Linked DNA regions of Homo sapiens: region 2 is linked to region 1. The links come from fine-mapping of genetic effects on gene expression. A gene starts in region 1. The other region holds a variant in brackets. All regions are shown on one strand. Distances are from middle to middle.

The links. PIP is the estimated chance that this variant, and not a neighbour inherited with it, causes the effect. A credible set is the group of variants that fine-mapping cannot tell apart.
Region 2: its variant is the best candidate, but not a certain one, in a credible set for the expression of LINC03082 in amygdala (GTEx, PIP 0.81).

What each region holds. Positions count from the first base shown.
Region 1 is chr13:110,127,087-110,131,487 of GRCh38, forward strand. It overlaps LINC03082 (long intergenic non-protein coding RNA 3082), which reads right to left and starts at 2,050. Exons shown (of 3, transcript NR_187462.1): 1 at 1,771-2,050. RefSeq lists an enhancer at 1-628.
Region 2 is chr13:110,026,253-110,030,653 of GRCh38, forward strand. It overlaps a transcript of LINC03082 not described here. Among named protein-coding and RNA genes, the nearest start is that of LINC00396, 25 kb to the right of the region's middle. The variant A/G (reference allele first, on the strand shown) is at 2,613.

The DNA of each region.
Region 1 (4,401 bases):
GGAACGAGGTGCGTCCCTTGCAGTAGAAAACCGATAACCCAAGACATGAAGGTTCGAATGGATGATTGGCTTAGCTGGAATTGTGCTCCTCTGGAGGAGACTTTTTAAATGTATTCCTAGTTGCAAGTCCAGAAGCAAGGGAAGTGAGGCCCTCAGGGTTCTATCAGAGCCTGGGAAGGGGAGGAGAGCAGAGATGCTAAAGCAGTAGCAGAAGATCCACAGACCCCTGGAAGGACATGGAAGCTCGCTTTGAGCTGCTCCTTAGTTCATGGGGGTCTCTCCAGCATAAAGAGCTTCCTTCCTAAAATGGGAAGAGGGCTGTTTGCACAGAGAGAAGCGTAGCCTTAATACTGTACTTTGTCCATCCCTCCAGAAAGCCCAAGGGAGGGGGCAGATGGTTCATCTGCAAGTGATCCCAGGCCTAAAGCAAAGAGATGGATGGTCGGAGCCTCCGCGCGGTTTTTCCTGGCTACCTCCATACCACCATGTCACCTCTCTGTAAAGGCGATATAGGGAGCACCATCTGGGTGTTGTAGCTCATCTGGCTGTTGTAAGGAGTAAATGAGATGGGACGTGCCACACACATGATATGTGCCCGGCTCACAGGAGGCACCTTAGTAAGTGGTCACCATCAGATATACTAGTGAACCTGAGAGTGGCCCTTACCAACGTGGAAGGCTGGGGTGTTTGTAATCATCACTCAAGGCAAAGCAGAAAGAAATCTAGGCTATTTTTTAAGACTCATTGTGTTTGGTCACAGGCAAAAATAGAATCCATCCTCATGCAACCATCCTTTAAATAGTATTTCAACAGAGGGTTAAAGTGTTGGTTTGGGGTGTGAGAGTGATACCTTATTCATTCAGAAGTCCCTCAAAGAAGAGGATGGAGAAACAGACACGATTCCATGAAATGATCACTTTCCCCAGGCAATCACACCAAGGAAGGTCAAAGAACCTCCTCCCCGAAGGTTCACTGCTGGAGGTGGAGATCACAGCCAACTGACAATATAACTGCTGGCAGATATTTTTAGGTGGAAAGTCCCACCGTTTCCCGTACCTCACTGTGACCCTCATTACGGCATTAGGATGGGATTACCTTGCTCTCTTCTGAAATACTAGCTTATCCGTGGCACCAGCAACAAATACAAGCAGCTTGTCTGATGGAAAGGTCCTCTACTTAAGAACTAAACTTCCCCCAAATCACAAGCCCCTTTGCTGAAACAATGAAAAATTTAGGTAAGCTCTGGATTGAACTATTTCCCTCCCTTTGAAATAACTGGATGTTTAGTCATAACAAATAAGAATGATTCTGGTATCTTGTGGTCACGACATAGCATTTTTATGTTTTTTTTTTTTTATTTTTCACTTTACATCTCACTACATGGACATGCTACCTTCAATTCAACCCCAGGTTACATCAAAACCTCTTGACCTTTCATTTAAAGACAAATAAAAGGCAGCTGCTGGGCTGTGAAATTGTGAATAACAAACGGAACCATTATTTGAAAGGTTTCAAATTCTGATGAACAGAAAGATTATTTTGGAAAATCTATAGCGGAGAGTAGTATAATTATAACTTAGATTTGCGTGGTGCTCAATCCAAACTCATCTCCAAACTGAACGTGGTTTTCTAACAATAACATTCCTCCAAAAAAGGGGGCAGCCTACAAACCAACATAAGCGTAAGATGCACTTCCTGTCCAGCTAAAAATAAACCTGCAGACATTTGAAAGCAGCATAGAATCCTTTCTAACAATAAAAACAAACTCACCCATGTCGTTGGGCCAAGGCTTTGACATTTTAAAAATCATTATGGTGAAAAATAAACGCAACCTATAACGTGAGCTATTGTTAGAAATCCTTGAGAAAAATGCCTCAAATAGAGAACTCGAACGTCCACTCGCTAAAAATGAAACCGTTTTACTTGGGCATTGTCAAAGGTCGAATGGTTTTCTCCAAAAATGATGTTGAAGTCCTAACCCCCAGGACCTCAGAATGTCACCTTATTTGGAAATAAGGTCCTTGCAGATGTAATTAATTAGAACGAGGTCACATTGGAATGGGGTGGGCCCCGCATCCAATAAAACCACTGTCCTTATAAAAAAGAGGCACGCCACGTGAAGACCGAGACACACAAGAAGAACACGGGGTGTGGCTGAAGGCGGAGGTTGTGACGACGCATGTACAAGCCTGCAGGAGCATCCGCGAGCACCGCTGGCCCCACCGGAAACCGGGAAGAGGCAGGACAGCTTCTACCCCGAGCCTCAGAGACAGTCTGGCCTTGACATCACCTTGATCGTAGAATTCCAGCCTCCAGAATGGTGAGACACAAATTCCTGTTATTTTCAGCCAGGCAGTTTGTGGCACTTCGTTTCAGCAGCCTAGGAAGTGAATATATTCACTTCCATATACGTGAAATTGACATCAGTGAGGATTTGCTCTCTAGGCAGTAGATGTGAACCGGCCTTCAACGATTTTTTTTTTTCTGGCTGCATGTTGGGCGCTCCCAGCTTAGGGGGTGGGTGTGCAGGGAGTGGGGAGGGAGGCGCTTCTGCTTCTGTGGCTCTCCCATGGTCTCTTCCCACAACATCTTCTGCATCTCTGTGGATCCGGCTGCCCCCAGCGCAGCAGCCCGGGTGGGGTGGGAATGTCCAGCACTGCGTCGCTGCCAGCCCTCTGGGCGTTCCAAGTTCCTGGCAGGATCCGGATGCAGTGTGGTTGACCTTAACTACCCAGGAGAGGGTGAGCTCTCCTACAGAAGACTTGGACATCTTCTCTGCCTTCTCATTTCTGTGTCCACAAAAAATCAGCACAATGGACACTGGATCCTGCTCTCCCTTCCTTCTCTTTCCCACCAACGCACACTTTGGCAGTCCTGGCACCAGCATGGGATCCACCCCACGCACACCCACATGCACCCCACACTCACCTCCAGGGAAGAAGCACATCAGTGAGAGGAATGGCTCTGTCCTCAACTCAGTAGGAGCCAGCACCCACCCCTCCCCTCTGTTGCCACTTCAAAAGGTTTTCTTTGTTCGCTTGTTTCTACTTACCATTAATGTTCTTCAGGCTGGATAAGCTTTAAGGTGTGTCCCTTGACATATTAGATCTATTTTACTCTGCCATTTTATAATTAAACAGGGTCTGACTGAAGTTACCTTTGGCCCATGTATGTCTAATCCTACCAAGTCCTAGCCATGAAACAGGTGATATGTGTATAAATGAAAACAGTGGGTTAAGAGGATGCTTCCAGAAGTATTAAGGCACCCACGCACACACACAGACAAATACGCTCCACTGAAGATCATTTAGAACTGTGGGTACAGGGAAGCACTTAGAGAACTGTATTACAAGAAGATTCAGTGGAAAATCTACCACCAATCCTAATTCATTTCCCTACAGAACCTTAGTGTGCAGTTCGTAGCCCACCTTCAGCACCTGTATGGGATTGGGGCCACTGAGTATTCTGTGTACACATTCGTCATGGTCTTTTAAAATCACCCTCATTGTTGCTGGCTTCTGACTGCCTCTCAGCTGTGCATTAGTCAGGATGCTGCAGCGAACAGCTGACATTAAGGACCTTAGGATGAAGGGACATTTTACCAAGATAGGGGCAGAGTTTAGGAAAAGCAGTAATGTTTAGTCCACTAAACCAGGGGTCACCAGCCTCAGGGCTGCAGAGAGGGGGAAGAAGTCTTATCCATGGCCCTGGAGGGCAGCCCCATAGTGTTTTGTTTTGTTTTGTTTTGTTTTGTTTTGTTTTGTTTTGTTTGAGGTGGAGTTTCAGTCTTGTTGCCCAGGCTGGAGTGCAATGGCGTGATCTCGGCTCACAGCAACAACAAACGGCTTAGCTGGAATTGTGCTCCTCTGGAGGAGACTTTTTAAATGTATTCCTAGTTGCAAGTCCAGGAGCAAGGGAAGTGAGGCCCTCAGGGTTCTATCAGAGCCTGGGAAGGGGAGGAGAGCAGAGATGCTAAAAGAGTAGCAGAAGATCCGCAGACCCCTGGAAGGACATGGAAGCTCGCTTTGAGCTGCTCCTTGGTTCATGGGGGTCTCTCCAGCATAGACAACTCCCTTCCTAAAATGGGAAGAGGGCTGTTTGCACAGAGAGAAGCAGTAGCCTTAATACTGTACTTTGTCCATCCCTCCAGAAAGCCCAAGGGAGGGGGCAGATGGGAGGAGGCTCCACCTCCCGGGTTCAAGCGATTCTCCTGCTTCAGCCTCCCGAGTAGCTGGGATTACAGGCATGTGTCACCATACACGGCTAATTGTGTATTTTTAGTAGAGATGGGGTTTCTCCAGGTTGGTCAGGCTGGTCTCGAACTCCCGACCTCAGGTGATCCACCCACCTCGGCCTCCCAAAGTGCTGGGATTGCAGGCGTGAGCCACCATGCCCGGTGGG
Region 2 (4,401 bases), 100 kb before region 1:
GGATCTGTTTGCATTAGGGAGAAAGCTCCTCTTAAAAAATAAGAACAATGATGTAATAGAGAAAAACAAAACTTGATTGAACCTTTCCATAATGTATGCATAAAGCAAAACATCATATTGTACTCCATAAATATAGTTATTGTCAATTTAAAAAATTATTAAAACACCTGACATACACTCTGTGATGGATATAGGATGTTGATTAAGCCTAATGGACTTAAGAGTCCTTTCCATGTCAAGCTTCTTGTGACATATGCTAGGATTTGTCCTCCTAGACAAAAACCAATAAAAAACAAAAAATAAAAAATACCTCCTCACCCAAGATACAGAAGTTTTTAGGTAAAACTCTACAGGGTGGTGGCAGCCATCTAATGTCCACTGCTGGGCTTCCCCAGAGGAAGCAGCACAGTGCTCTTGGTGAGGACAATGATGCAGAGAGTGAGGTGGGGTCTGCTGGCTGGGGAGGCCCACCCTCCAGGGCTGCACCCCCAGCCCTGCCGAGCAGGCTTCTGACTCAGGCTCGGTCTTTGCAGGCACACACTACCACTAAATTCACTCACTGATAAAAATATTCATTTTGTGCCCATTATATACCAGAAGAGCTTATAGCTCCAGGGACAGAGCAGTGAGCAGGACATGGTCCCCGAGACATTGGGGAGACAGCAAATAGAGGTACAGATGAGTTCCCCCAAATCTACCACATGCTGTTCCCTGCAGACAGCCGCCCAGACACAGTATTGTGTGTTATACCTGGAGGGGCCATAACCCAGTTGGGCCTGGAAAAGTTCTGCAGATAAAGCAGCACCTCCAGGGAGACTTGCAGGACATTTAGGAAGAAATGAAGTGGCAAAAGACACTGTCATTTCCATCTATTTACTCCATGGCCAAAATCAAGGTATAGAGAAAGGTCATCATTAAATCCTACATATTTTCTGCTATTGCTTCCAACTGGTGAAAGAAGTTCATGTATTGTACTTTGGGGATGTACTAAGCGTAAATATCTGGGCAGCTTTTAATGCTGAGGCCTAATGCAATAACGAGTGAGTCATAACAGTTTACAAATACAGAGCTAAGACCACAATTTCCCAAATGTCCTTATTCATACGGAAAAATAAATATTTGTTTACTTTTTTGGGGTTCAAGAATTAGAGACATGACTTGAGAATAGAGAAATCTGGTGACAAATTTTTTTTTCTGGCACTTGATGTGATCATCAGTGGCATGAACATATTAATATGTAAAGTGTCATTGTATAGAATCACGCTTTCATTCTCATGATGTGATTACCAACTGGGTTCCAATCATTAGGTCTTGGAGAGTTGACTCAAGAACAATTGAGCAACCTCCAAATCCTGCTTCATTTCTCAGCTGCCGCCTAAAGGTTCACATTCTGTTTCTCCAGTGTGTTGTAGGGACTTGAATCTATTGACATGCAAAATCTCCAACAGAGACTAATGCTTTAAAACTCCACATCTTATAGGCAATGGGGTCTGAGAGTGCATATTCTCAATGTGCTCTTTGTGGAGAGGAGAGAGGGGAGAGGATGAGGGCCCAGAAAGGAGTAAGCAGGGTACAGACAGGTGGGTTGGGGATTCGGAAAGTGGATTTTATTCTCTTAAAGTGTGTCCTTGCATCAGCCAGGATTGGGGCACTGAGATGGCAGCCTGGACTTGGATAACACCACATACACGCTTACTCCTTCACTGCCCGTAGTTTGGGCTTCACATCAAACCTCACTCTCCTCACTGCACAGACAGCCTTTGACTCATGATGGTTTGATTTACAATTTTTCAACTTCACAATGGCACGAAACCATCGCAACTTTGACATAATGCACAGTATTCAATACGTCACATGAGATAGTCAAGCAAAGCAGGCTTTGTGTGAGATGATTTTGCCCAACTGTAGGCTATTGTAAGTGTTCTGAGCATGTTTAAAGTAAGCTAGATTATGAGATGGTGGTTAGATTAGATGTATTAAATGCATTTTTGACTCACAGTGTTTTCCACTTATGATGGGTTTATCAGATTTTAACCTCACTGTAAGTCAAGGGGTATCTGTATTCTAAATGCAACATGGAAATAGCAAGAAGATGACAGTTAAGTTTACAAAAAAGAATTGAATGTCCCCAGTCTCTCACACTTTTAAGTATTACAAAGTACTAAAGTTCTCAATAAAGAAAGCCATTAATATCCAAATATTCATGACAAGTAACATTAGTGTGGCGTGATTTGGCCCCTGTCCCAATGAATACACAAAGTATATACGTAAGCAATTCATAAGCAAGAAAAACACAAATGTCATTAACAAACATTTAAGAAAATACCTGACCTCATTTCACATTAAAGCAACGAGGTATGTATCAAATTTTAGCTATAACGTCAGAAAAGTTGAGACAAAGAGGAGAGAGAGCTTGCCTACTGTTGGAAACCCCTGCACAGTCTGTATGTCTGAAGACTGCACCCTTTTTGGAAAGAAATATGGCAATGCATATTAAAAGCCTGAAAAACAGTCATACATTTTTATCCATTAATTCTACTCCTGGGAATCTATCCTAAATAAATAACCTAAAATTCAGAAAAGGCATTAGGCAAAAATATTTCCATTACAGC[A/G]TGGTTTATCATAATGAAAACTTCGAAACAACTTTCCTACCCAACATCAAAGAGATGGTTAATCCAAATAGTACAATCCAGGGGTGATATTCAAAATAATTCCTAGCTGTATTTCATAAAGCATGGCATGTCCAGTTGGAACACATGCCAGCCCATCAGCATGGACACCAGCCTGACAGCCACACAGATGTGCACTGTGAGAGTACCAGACTTGTGCAACCACACTTTGAATGTGCTTCAGAAAGCCGTGGAAACGTTTATGAGGGTTTCCTAGAAAACGGGGAAACACTTATTATAAGTAAATATATATTTGAAAAGAGAAAAAGACTGATGAAACTATAATAAAGTGTTAACCATGGTCATCTCTGAATCTTGGGATAATAGATTTTTTCTTCTTTATGGTTGATTTCATGTTTATAATCAGAAAAAATTTGAAATTGTTTCAGCAGCATAGTTCTAAATGTTCAAATGTCTTCACTTATCTGCCCCAAGACTTCCATGGGATAGGGATACCATCTTTCAGCCTAACAGGAGTGCATGTTAATTGATTTTTCATGCCCATCCGTAGAACAGTCTGGAAAACATTATCCACAGTTAAAGTAATTAAGAGAGCGATTGCACTTTTGTGCTTTATCAGATAATATTTCGCCCACTGTTTTGGTAACATCTAGAGATTTTAAAATTATATTTAGGAGGTAAATCTAACTTTCATAAATTAAAATTTTTATGGAAATAAACATGGATTCACATGCAGTTGTAACAAATAATAGGGACAGAGCCCATGTACTTTTTATTCATTTTACCCCAATGTTAGCTTCTTTCAAAACCATAGTACAATATTACAACAAGGATGCTAATATTGAGACAATCCACCTGTCTTATGCAGATTTCCCCAGGTTTACTTGTACTCTGTGTGTGTGTGTGTATGCGTATTAATTCTATACAGCTTCATCACATCTATATTTGTACACCCATGACCATAGTCAAGACACAGAGCTGCTCCACACCACAGGGATCCCCTGGGCTGACTTGCTTCTGGCTCCCAAATTGCAAGCCATGTAACCTATCATTAGCCAACTTGTGTACTCACCTCTGCAGTGCATAATTCACATTATGCATTCTCCTATTACAGTCAGAGCTTGTGAAATCTCTGATATCTAACATCCTAAAACACGGAAAGTATTATTAAAGAAAAAAATCAGTGGAAGTACAGGGATGTAACTTTTTCTCCATGGCTGTAACCACACACAGTGGAAAAGATGCTGAATCTACAAGGATGTTCCTGCATCTACCAGGTGGTTAGACTTGAAAAGGGTGCTTTGGTCAGGATACTCTCCTTATCAAAGAAACTCAAGGGGTTTTTATTTTAGTGTCCATTTTAACAAGCCTAGTTTTACAAAATTATTTAAGTAGAGTAAATAGCCCCAGCAGTGCTCTAAAGAGTTCAGTTTGGTGTCTGTTTATTCACACCAGAGTGTCGGTACTCCCTAATATGCAAGTAGCCTTCTCTAGAAAGAAAGATAAACTAAATCCTCAAGCTTCCCCTACCACTTTGGACCAAGTTTCCTACCACTTTGGACCAGGAGTGTGCTGGCCATAGCCATTGGTGATGGGCACGGAAGTCAGCAGTTGGGCCACAAATTATCACACAAAACTTCCTGAGCAAGCAACAGGTGCACAACCCCGGAACTGAAAGACGAAACCGAAGTGCAAACCATCCTTACAAGTCAGTAAGCTGGGGGCCAGACCAGACACGGGACTGGCCAGAGAGGCTCATGTGTCATTAGAA